Regions from separate parts of the Homo sapiens genome. Here all the other regions are linked to region 3. Evidence: fine-mapped QTL for protein levels in blood plasma. Region 3 holds a variant in brackets. A gene starts in each other region. All regions are shown on their forward strands.

Region 1 (4,327 bases), not on the chromosome of region 3:
TGTTCCTTGTCTATGTCTCTTAGCCTCTTTCATATTTTCCACCACTTTGTCCTCCTGTGCTCCATCCTGGGTAAATTCTTCAAATCTATTGTTCACCCCAGTAGTTGTCTCTTCAGCCATATTAATCTGCTGTTTATTTTTATGTATGTATTTATTTATTTATTTTTGAGACAGAGTCTCACTCTCACCCAGGCCGGAGTGCAGTGGCACAATCTCGACTCACTGCAATCTCTGCCTCCTGGGTTCAAGCAATTCTTGTGCTACAGCCTCCTGAGTAGCTGGGACTACAGGCATGTGCCACCTCACCTGGCTAATTTTTGTATTTTTAATAGAGACAGGGTTTCACTGTGTTAGCCAGGCTAGTCTTGAACTCCTGGCCTCAAGCCATCAGACTGCCTTAGCTTCCCAAAGTGCTGAGCCTTAATCTACTGTTTAATCTGTACACTGGGCTTCTATTTTCAAAAATTATGTTTTTACATAACTGCTTGCTTTTTTTCCCTCAATCTTCCTGGTCACTTTAAATAGTCTCTTGTTCCTTATCTATACTTTCAATTACCAACTTTTAATTCTTGAAGCATATGAAACATCCTTATTTTATATTATATATACTGCAATTCCAACATCTGAGATGTGTTCGAAGGTCTGCATTTTTAGTTTATTGCTTGGTGCTCCTCTCACCTAAAGCACCTTGTGTCCTGTGTTTTATGATTTTTCTGTTTTACAAACATGTGAACTCATGTTCCATGGGAGTTTTTCTGTGGGATTTCTTTGAGTCATGAATATAGGATGAGTTACTCCAGAGACAATTTTTATCATTTGTTTCTGCCACGTGCCTAAGGAGCTATTATTTACCTTACTTTAAATTCTTATCTTATCTTTTTGTTTGTTTGTTTTTTGTGTGGTTGTTTTTGCCACAAAGTCACCATGAGTTTCACCTCCAGGCCTATTAGTGGGTAGACTTGTGGTGAGGGGCATTCAGGGTTGACATTTATTTTTCTCCCACTCAGAGTCCATACTGAGTTGGGCAAGCTCTGTGTCAGCTCGCTTTAAGGAATTTTTCTCTCCGAGTTCTCCACTGTGGATGTTGTATTTCAGTGCTCTTTGTTTAAGGCAGAAATTTTGGATTTTGTTTTTCACTTCGATTTTGTTTCTCAGCTTTAACTTTTGTCCATGTTCATAAGACTGAAGCTCTTGGTCAACTGGATCAACAGATACTTCTCTGCTGGCTGTGATCTCTTTGGATTTTTGTTGTCTTTATATATTAACATATACAAGGTCTCACTCTGTTGCCCAGGCTGGAGTACAGCAGTGCAATCTTGGCTTATTAAAGCCTTGACCTCCTGGGCTCAAGCGATCCTCCCACCTCAGCCTCCTGAGTAGCTGAGACCGCAGGTGTGTGCCACCAAACCTGGCTAATTTTTTGCACCTTTTGCAGAGAGAGGGTTTCACCATGTTGCCCAGGCTTATTGTCGTTTTTGATCTCTGATGATTTTCTTCATTTCTCACCACCTCAGCTACACATTTTAAAAGATGGTTTACAATATTTTTGTGGTGTTTTGTATTAGGAGAATTCTTCAGCATCTGCTGTCTACCATATTGTCAGAAATGGAGTCTAGCCATCCTTCCCGGCCCATTTCAAACGGGTTCCTCTTAGGACCAGGAGACCTCACATTATGTGTGTCCTACCTTGGCCTGTGGTTTGGTCACTTGTGTGTGTGTGAACTTCATCCTCCTTGAGGGCAGGAATATGGTTTCCTCTCTTTCACTTCCACAGAGTCCTGTCCAGAGTTCTGCACACCAAGACTGTGTAAATGAATGGAATTGCATCTGGGAGCTCGAGGCACCCATGCAAACCTGTGCTGCCAGTGACTTCCACCAGAGGGCAGCGGCAGCAGGTGCCGGCGCTGGGGCAGGACTGGGAGGAGTCTCACTCTGGGGGCGCCTGGTTCCCCGTGGCTCTAATACTTGCCGCATCAAATGCATACACCCACATTTAGGACCGAACCCAATGGAGGAGGACCGCTCCTCATTCCACATGTTGGGGAAATGAAGACAAGCAAGGATGCAGGAAGTGGAGGGCCAGGAGAGGTGGACCTGGGATGGGACCAATTGAGGCAGGGCCAGGATTTGGAACCAAACCCCTTCTGGATTTGACCACTTCCAGGGCCCTGCTTGGACAACCAAATTATCTATTCCTTTTCTCATTCAATAAACATTTATTCACCTCCTACCATATGCTCCACAGGGAGTACCATGGGAATTAAACACGCTTGGCCCCTGCCTTCTTCCTATAGCGTCAGTCTGCTGCAGTGCAATGGGGCAACTCGGGGTTTCTCAGGCAGCCCTGGGCTTCCTTCCTTCAGCCCTTTGCTCCTGCTATTCCTTCTGGCCCAGAGGCCTCCCATGATTGCTGTTTGTCAAAATCCTGCTCAGCCTTGTAGACCCAGCTCCCATGCCTGACTCCCACGGAGGCATGCCCAGTCTGGTACCTGGAGATGGGATAGCTGGCCCCACTGTGCCATCTGACGGGGCGGCTCCCACAAGGCCTTGGCACCCTTCCCTGTAGAAGGACTTGTGGGATGGCCATCTCTCAGGCCCTTCCCAATTTATATTTCTCTGAGGGGAGACTTAGGCTCTTATCTCCAAAAGTGCATCAAGACCACACCCTCCTTCCCAACCACCATTGCACCTAAGGTTAAGATAAAACTCAGGATTTAATCCAAGAGAGCCAAATTACACGGACCGGGACAGGCAATGGGTCATTCACTCCCTCTTCCAATATGTACTGATTGAGCAGCTACTACATTATCAATTTTTTCTTCTGGGCCACCAGAAATGAGGCATGGCTCTTCCACTTCCCTTCTTCTTAGAAGACCCTCGGGGAAGTGTGTCTGCATGGATGCGTGTGCATGCGTGTGTCTGGCTCCGTGACTCTTGGGGTGCAGCCTGGATGGGTGGGCTCCCAGCACAGGCAGCTGGGGCTCTCCCCACCAGCCCCTGTAACAGCAGCCCAGCTTCCTGCAGACCAAAACCACAAGCAGAACAAGCAGGCGTGAGACACTCACAGGTTGGGTTTGATCGCATGCGTGTCGGAGAGGAGAGAGCAGAGAGAGACACAGGAACAAGAACAGCAAAGGGTAGAGCAGACCTGCGCCAGGGGCGCACAACGGCCGTGTCCACCTCCCGGCCCCAAGATGGTGCTTCCCACAGGCAGCCACGCGTAGCAGCCAGAGACAGCTCCAGACATGTGGCTCTTCTTCGGGATCACTGGATTGCTGACGGCAGCCCTCTCAGGTAGGCCCCCTTCCCTCATCTCCTGCCACTGGTGCTGGAGGAGCCGGGTCCGGCCCTCTCAGTCCCCTTTCTGGTTGTTTCCTTGTGGTCACTTTTCTAGGATCTTTTAGCCAAGACTACACTCAGGTACCAGGGAGGTCCAGCATCTGGGGCTAGGAGAGGACACAGGAGCCCCTCGAGGGGCTGGGGCTGTGCCTGGAAGCCTCCTGGAGTGACAGAATGTGGGAAGCATGCTTTGTGCCTTACCAATGGGTCCCTAGGGTGTGAGGAGGGAGGTGCCTCTCCCATCCTTAAGCTCAGGAACTCCCCCATTTCCTATTTCTTGCCAACTCTTAAGAAGGAACCGTTCACCTTCCAGAGAGGCAGGACCACTGATGGTGGTACTTTCAACGCCAAAGCTGAGGCTTGGGGTCCAGCAGGCGTAGGCCAATCACAGGAGAGCACCTCCCGAAACAGGACTCAGGGAAGCCAGGGAGAGTTCTGGACAACCAGGCGCTGATGGCCTCAGCACAACCAGCTGGGGTAGTCTAGGGCATAAGCGAGCATGAAGGCCACCCCCACGTCTCAAGCTGCCCCCAAGTGTCAAGGCACCTGGCCACCTGGGCCAGGGAATCAGATGGCCAGAAGGTTTGGGGCACTAGACTGTGCTCCCCAGATACTTGCTGGCCCCTGTTGAGTGCAGGGTCCAAGCTGGCCAGAGCGGGGCAGGGGCCTGGAGATGCAAGAGATCCTGACCCCATCGAGCTCTCACATTTTGGGATTTGGGAAGACTGGTATGGAAACAGAATTCGGGCCAGGGGAGTCTGGGTCCACCTTGCAGCCAGAGAGCCAAGTGCTTTCATTTTGTGATGGAGGAGACCCAGGAAGACCCAGTCAGGAGGGGGCATCGAGCTGGTTTGGAGGACTGGGTACATGTCGCGAGACTCTGGGCAGGGAGTGCTCTCCTCTCTGCCTTGATCTCCAGGCATGTGTTCCGAGCCTGTGGCCTCATACTGGTTCAGGGAAAGCCATTCGGCTCTGGGAACTGGAGTTT
Region 2 (2,998 bases), not on the chromosome of region 3:
GCTGAGCTAGAGAAGCAGAGAATCAAGAGGACGAATGTGGGGGTGGCAGAGAGTAAGGTAGCCAAGGGGGTGCTCCGTTCCACCGCATCAGGGAGGAGGCAGCTAAGTGACCAGCGTCGAGCGCCCCGAGGAGGAGCCGCTGGCTGGCATCACCGTCGGAGTCCGGCTCCACGGCCCTCCGCATCGCCCAGAAGCCCGACTCCTCTGTCAAAGCCCTCGCCACAGTTACAGACACATTGCCTGGTCTAGTGAAATTACGTGTTTCATGTTTCAGCTCCCAGACGTCAGGGCTCAGGTCTGTTTTCATTTCATCCCAGAGCCTGGCACAGTGTTTGGCACATAGTGGCGCTCGCCAACGGTTTGCTGAGAGCTTTCCGGGAAGGGCTCAGTGCGCTTAGGATCCAAAAGCACGCGTGAGAATGCAGGGCATTCTAACTCCAAGGGGGTTGGACTTGCGTGAGGAAAGGTGCTGCAGAGAGGCTACCGTCACTTACCCACCCGCCGGTTTGCAGGATCTACAGACGGGCGGCGGCCGGGCACAGCTCCCTACAGTTTGCAGAGGGCGTTCACACCTAACGCCAGGGCCCCCCTAGAGGAAGAAAACCAGGGCCCGCCCGCGGAACAGTGAGCGTGCAGCACGGCTGTGGCCCCGTTTCATGGCCGGGAACACCGAGTCGCCGGGGTCAAAGTAGGTCCGCAGGTCCTGGGGGCCGAGCCTAGGTGGGCTGGAAGTGACAGCCCCGGGGGCTCCAGGCTCAGAACGCCCGGCGGGGCCCCAGCACTATTTGCATATCCCCAGGGAGGCAGCAAAGGTTCGGCTGCAGTCCCGGGCGGAGGTTGCCGGGCGGGGCGGCAGGGTACCCGGGCGAGCGGACATGCACCCCACCCAGCGGTGCCCAGCCCGCACCAGTTAGCGCCCAACTCGCCAACTCCGGGACTTTCGCAAAGCTCCAGAGGGCGGGGGAGCCGCCGAGGAGTGGGACGGACCATCGCGGCTCGAGAGGGGGGAAGCGCTCCGGCCCGGCATCCTGCAGCGCCCGGGCGGGCCGAGACGCTCCGTGAGAGGGCCGAGCCTGCAGCGCAGAGACTCGGCGGTCGACGCGGGGGCAGGCGGCGCGGGGCGGGCGGCTCGGCGGGGCCCGGGGGCGGTGGCGGCGGCGACGACCCCCTCGTGGCGGCGGCGTGGTGGCGGCGCCCAGCTCCCCGGCCGGCGAGCGGCGGAAGTGCCGCGGAGTTGGAGCGGGGCCGGCGCCGCAGCCGCTTCTGCTGGCTGAGCTGCTGCCGCCGCCGGGCGGACGGGCGGACGCGCGGAGCTGGGGGCGGCGCGGCGGGGCCGGCGGGGCGCGGCGGGGCTGACCGGCCCCGATGAGGCGGAAGGAGAAGCGGCTCCTGCAGGCGGTGGCGCTGGTGCTGGCGGCCCTGGTCCTCCTGCCCAACGTGGGGCTTTGGGCGCTGTACCGCGAGCGGCAGCCCGACGGCACCCCTGGGGGATCGGGGGCGGCGGTGGCGCCGGCGGCGGGACAGGTGAGTCCCCCCGTTGCTACAGGCCGGGAACACCCCCTTCCCGAATTCACTTTTAGCCTGTGGTTCCTTCCTCCACCTTCTGCTGTCTGCCTCCTCAGAGTCAGCTCCGAGACTCTTCAGCTCTTCCCATTTTCCGGATGGGAAAATTAAGTCCTGTCGGGACTTGTCCAGGGTCCCACGCCAGTCAGAGACTGAGTCCGAACTAGCACTCAGGACGCTATTTCTCACCACATGTTACCACCTTCCTTTCTGTCCCCGTCTGGTATTCCTTGACGTCTTCCAGCGGATCTCTTTTGAAGGATCCTATCTGCATCCCTGTATCCCAGGATGACTCCTGCCTTGTGCCAATAGGAATGAAGATTCTGGTTCTTCTATTTGGTGTCCAGGTCCTCTCTGCTTCCCTCCTCCCACCCCCCCCCCCCCACAACCCCTACCTGCTGATCCCAGTGTTCTTTGCTCAGGTCAGCCCTTTTCCTGATTTCTCATCTGCCCAACGAGACACCCGGGCCTTCCTCCTCTCCCCATTTATTCAACACCCCCGCCCCAACTCTAGCCTTTTCCTTTCTCAGATCCTGTGGATTCCTTGCAGAATGTAAAGATCATGCTCCCTTTAAAGCTTCAAGCCCCTGGGGGTGGAGAAGGGGGTAAGCTCCTGGTCCTTGAGGGACCTGCTGCCTTTGACCTTATGGGAGTCCAGAGGTGGGGCTCTGGTGGGGGGACCCCCAAAATGTCCCAGAGGCTATTGGTGCCCAGTGTCCTGAGGATGGAACACCAGAAGCCTTCCCTATCTCTTCTGAACTTGTCTAGTCTGGTTAGTTGTAGTGTTTATTGCAGCCAAAACTGGGATCGGAATGGTTTCTGCCTCCTTTGAACTTACCCACGTATGTTTGTGTGTATGTGTGCGTGCACGCATTTAGACTAGCAGCTCCCTCATAGCAGAAGCTCTGTCACATCACTCCCACCCTCCCAGGAGGTGCTAGTGAGTGTATTGCTTAGACTGTTTCATATAGTGGAACATTTCAGGCTTTCTTACGGGATTTCTCTGGTCCCATGAGAAGTGGATAATTTGTGTATCAGGGTCAGACTTGACTGACTGTTGGCTGGCCTCGACGAAAGAGGCTGGCTTTTCTGAGATTGATGGTTTTCCTTATTCTTCCCAGTATCAGGCTGCTGTCTAGGCAGTCTGGCATCTGGAGCACAGAGGGCTCTTTGCTACAGAGCTGACCAATTTGAGCTCCGCCTGTAACTCTGTTAATTGCTGCAAAGCATCCCAGAGGGTCTCATTGATCTTTCTGGTAGAGCTTACTGTTTAGAAACTAAGGTTTCCATCTCTTTCCTAAACCCCTGGTTCAAACCCTGACAGCTAGCTTAGACCTCTCTCCCTGAAATTCTGTATCTGTATGGATTTTCCGTTCATGAAATCTCTTTCCTCTGTTCCTATTCAGTACCAGCATCAGAGTCAGGAGTTCCAGGG
Region 3 (4,345 bases):
CCCGCCTCACCTTCCTCTCCCAGCCCGGAGCCTCTCTGCTGAGCACATGTTTAGCATTCCCTCAGGGCGGCTTTGCTTTTCCCCTTCCCACAAAAGAAGACCCTGCAGCTGCAGACATGCTGTGGTTTCCGGAGCCTTGGCTGTCATGGGGCCAGTCACCAGGGTCCACCTGCACTCAGATGCTGTCCTGGGGGAACTGGCTGGCAAGACCCCTTCCACCCAGCTGGAGGGGTCCGGAGGAGGCCGAATCCACTCCCACATCTGCTCTGGGCTCGCTTTGGAGTTCCCCTCTGAGCAGATAGGGCTAACGTGTCCCATTTCCAATGTCTGAAAAAGAAAGGTCGAGGGGCTGGGCACAGTGGCTGATGCCTGTAATCCCAGCACTTTGGGAGACTGAGGCAGGTGAATCACCTGAGGTCAGGAGTTCAAGACCTGCCTGGCCAACATGGCAAAACCCCATCTCTACTAAAAATACAAACATCAGCCCGGTGTGGTGGTGTGCGCCTGTAATCCCAGCTACTCAGGAGGCTGAGGCAGGAGACTCTCTTGAACCCGGGAGGGGGAGGTTGTGGTGAGCCAAGATCATGCCACTACACTCCAGCTTGGGCGACAGAGCAATACTCTATCTCCAAAAAAAAAAAAAAGAAAAAAAAAAAGAAAAGAAAAAGAAAGGCTGAGGGACTCACCCGAAGTCATGGCAGTTGGAACAGTGCTCATGAAACCTAGAGGGAGAGGCCAGGTCCCAGGCTGTGCCACCTGCCATGGGTCTGGAACCCTGGGGCAAGAATGATTCTGGTGGGTCTGAGGATGATCTGGGTGGTCTGTGGATCCAGACAGCCCTGTCTGGTTTTCTTTCCTGCTATCTTTTCTATGAATGCCTATATTTTTCAAAACCACTGATGTCCTGCTGGGATGCAGACCAGCTAGCTTCCTTAGGACCACAGGACATCCCTGGGCCTCTCCCTTCTTTGATAGCTCAGTTCACTATTTCCTCCCTGGGCACAGCTGTGGGCCTCACATTCCTGTTTCCTTTCCCCTGGGAAATAGGAACAGGAAAATTGTTAGGGAAAATTGTCCAAGACTTGAAAATGGAGCAGAGATTCCTGCAGGTCCTTTGAGTCATGTCAGCCTTGGGCATTGTCTGGCAGGCCTGTTCAAGGAATTACCTGACTTTCTAGGGGTGTAGACCTTTGTCTAACTTGCTATTTACTACTCATTAGGTTATTTTACAACTTTATGACAAAGGCATAGGAAACTGATAGGGTGCAGACTTGTTTTATAGTGACACAAATAAAAGCATTTTAGTGAAAAGGCCAGGGAGGACACTCATTCTATTTTATGGGATGAAATATTGCCCCATAAAAAATTGTAAAAAAAAAAGAAAAGGGGAAAAAAGGCTAAGTCCGGGCACAGTGGCTCACGCCTGTAATCCCAGCACTTTGGGAGGCCGAGGTGGGCAGATCACCTGAGGTCAGGAGTTTGAGACCAGCCTGGCCAACATGGTGAAACCCCCACATCTCTACTAACAATACAAAAATTAGCCGGGCATGGTGGTGGGCATCTGTAATCCCAGCTACTCAGGAGGCTGAGGTGGGAGAATCGCTTGAACCTGGGAGGCAGTGGTTGCAGTGAGGGGAGATCACGCCATTGCACTCCAGCCTGGGCAACAGAGCAAGACTCCATCTTAAAAAAAAAAAAAGAAGAGAAAGAAAGTCTAAGGTTTTATATAAAGTGATTTAGCAATATTACTTTAATATTCTTTCCTTCAGTAATTGTAACTATTTTGATGTCTCCTACATTTTTTTTTAAACCAGCTCTTCCATCCTGCTGGTTCTCTCACTGATTAAATACTTTTTAGATACATGTTCATTCTATATTTGTGTGAAAGCCATGTTTTAAAATTTAATTTTGAAAAATTAACATCTGGCAAAGTTGAGGGTTTTCTTCATTTACAGTTCTATGAATTCTAGCCCATATATAGTTGCGTACCTGCTACCACAATTAGGATACAAAACAGGTCCATCATCCCCCTGAAAAACTCCCTTGGGCCATCCCTTACAACCATGTTTTTGACTTCTTGAAAATGACTCTTTCACAGGATGCAGAGGGTTGTCAGTGACTCGGGAGTTGTGGGTGTGCCCGTCTTATCAATCCCCACAGCCTTGCCTGTGGAGATGCCCTATCTGTCCCCACTCTGTCAAGCCCAGGGAAAGGCGTGGGGTCAGAGGATTTGGCTCTGTCACACCATTCACTGCCTGCCCTTCTTCCCAGCGCTTCCAAGATCTGGTTGTATTAAACACGAGAATGAAGAGAGGAAAACACCTTCGCCCACGGTGTGCTCTGGGGACATCTCCAGGTGTGGGTGGTGG[C/G]GTCAGCCACAGGACAGGTAAATAACCAAAGGGAACATGGGTACCCAAGTCAGATGTCCTCTTCGCTCCTTCCCTCAGGAGAACCTGCCTTTTCCTCACCAGGGAGCTGGCAACACCCAGGCTTCCCTGCAAGGGCGGGAGGGACATCGAGGTGCCGGATAGCCAAGGGAGCAGAGGAGGAAGGGGCTCTTCGAGTAAACTTGTTGGGAATTAAGATGTGCTGCTCTCATCGCCTGGGTGTTACTTCAGTTGGAGAAAAAAGAGGCTTCACCATTTGTCTTTGTGCAGTGTTATCCTCAGCAAAGAGGACTGGAAACGTGGTACATGGGAGGAGGGAGCCAGGGATGCGAGTGGCCAGCCACGCCCAGGGAGGGGGAGCGAGGCACAGGGATGTCTCCAGACAAAACCCCTAAATCACATGGAATCAGATACACATATTCTCTCTCTCTCTCTTTTTCACATTCTCTCTCTCTCTCTGTCACTGAGCTATTTTTCACTCAGCATTCAGAGCCTGTGGTATGTGTGGATACGAAGTAGGGCTTCAGGTCTTCATAGGTCTAAAGTCCATAATGCTGTCTCTAGTGCCCTCCCTTTAAAATGTATTTTATAGCCTTTTATTTGTCTTTACCAACGAATGGAAAAGCAATGAAGTCAGACTTTTTTGGGATTTGCTGCATCTAACCGGTGCCCTTGCCCTCTCCAGAGGCCTCCCTTTCCCTGGTGCGAGAGGCATGTGCAGGGCCTGGTAAGAAAAGGAGCCTTAGACACTGACTCCAGGGGTCCCTAGCCAGCCTCATGGGCTTTGTGACAATCCTAACACTTAATGGTGTGTTCTACTCTGACTTCCAAGTTCTCTTTTCTTAAATATGTGTCTTATCTAGGGTGACCGTGTGACTTTTAGCCTCCAAACCATGACATTCTTAAGAGTGAAAGGAGGTGGGAATAATAATTACTCTGGGACAATGTGTGTAAACTGGGACCGTGGCAGGCAAGCAGCGAAGTATAGTCACTCTTATCTTTCAGAGTAAATTGGGAACTTTTTCCATGAAGGGGCCCAGTCTGTCTATCTGTGATAAGATATACTTGGGCTTTGTCCCCAAGAGATGAGTGTCTTTTGTGTGCCAATGAGATGTCCGGTGGCTGGGGGTCCCTAGTTAGCTTCAGGATGGGGGCTGCTCTCCAGAAAGACCAAGGCAGGAGTAGAGGATTGGAACTTTCAGCCCTATCCTGGACCTCCTGGGAAGAGAGAGGGGCTGGAGATAGAGTCAATCACCAATGGCTAATGATTTAATCAATCATGTCTAGGTAATGGGATCTCCATTAAAAACTGAACAGTGAGGTTCAGAGAGCTTCTGAGTTGCTGAATACGTTGAGGTCCTGGGAGGGTGGCATTCCAGAGAGAGCGTGGAAGCTCCACACCGCCCCCTAGTACCTTGTCCTTTACATCTCTTCCATTTGCCTGTTTCTAACTTGTATCCATTCCAATAAACCAGTAATAGTAAGTAAAATACTTTCCTGAGTTCTGTGAGTCCTTCTAGCAAATTATCCAACCTGAGGAGGGGGTTGTGGAAACTCTTGGTTTATAGCTGATTGATCAGAAGTACTGGGGACAACCTGTGACTTTCGACTGGCATCCAAAGTGGAGCAGTCTCATGGGACTAAACCCTAAACCTGTGGTGTCTGCACTGACTTCAGGTCCAATCCAACATATTAATTAATCCTACATATTAATCAGGATGGAATGGAATTGTAGGATGCAATTCCTATGGAGAGTTGGAGACCACCTTGGAGTCCTCTTCCGCATCTAAGAGCTTTGTTAGGAGATGCTTAGTTAACACTGACTGATGGCTGCTTCTTTAAGGGGCTCTCTTCCTAAGAAATTTAACCCAATTGAAGTTTAGAGGGAGAAACTTCTTGGTTTAGTTCAAACACCTTATTATATGTTGGGCTGGCTTTGGTTGTTAAATATCAACTGT

Alleles and levels. Positions count from the first base shown, and alleles are read on the strand shown. Strength reflects both the effect of a copy and how common the allele is.
For the plasma level of the protein whose gene starts at base 3,060 in region 1, allele C in region 3 goes with a lower level than allele G (weak association).
In carriers of allele C in region 3, the plasma level of the protein whose gene starts at base 1,232 in region 2 tends to be lower than with G alone (weak association).

What was found. PIP is the chance, under the fine-mapping model, that this variant and not a neighbour inherited with it causes the effect. Protein levels are from antibody-based Olink assays in UK Biobank. Linkage for the fine-mapping came from a reference panel and not from the study's own genotypes, which makes the PIPs less certain.
Region 1: CD6 starts here. The variant in region 3 is fine-mapped to the plasma level of the CD6 protein (UK Biobank, PIP above 0.99).
Region 2: it holds the start of GALNT10, and the variant in region 3 is fine-mapped to the plasma level of the GALNT10 protein (UK Biobank, PIP 0.98).

What each region holds. Positions count from the first base shown.
Region 1 is chr11:60,968,621-60,972,947 of GRCh38, forward strand. CD6 (CD6 molecule) reads left to right here and starts at 3,060. Exons shown (of 13, transcript NM_006725.5): 1 at 3,060-3,294. The coding sequence starts at 3,246.
Region 2 is chr5:154,189,502-154,192,499 of GRCh38, forward strand. GALNT10 (polypeptide N-acetylgalactosaminyltransferase 10) reads left to right here and starts at 1,232. Exons shown (of 12, transcript NM_198321.4): 1 at 1,232-1,524. The coding sequence starts at 1,366. It overlaps LOC124901118 (a long non-coding RNA gene), which reads right to left and starts at 578. Exons shown (of 2, transcript XR_007059010.1): 1 at 495-578. RefSeq lists an enhancer at 1-607 and silencers at 828-917, 1,008-1,107, 1,118-1,227, 1,318-1,397, 1,468-1,527.
Region 3 is chr2:62,294,061-62,298,405 of GRCh38, forward strand. No RefSeq gene overlaps it. Among named protein-coding and RNA genes, the nearest start is that of MIR5192, 90 kb to the left of the region's middle. RefSeq lists an enhancer at 2,524-3,023. The variant C/G (reference allele first, on the strand shown) is at 2,370.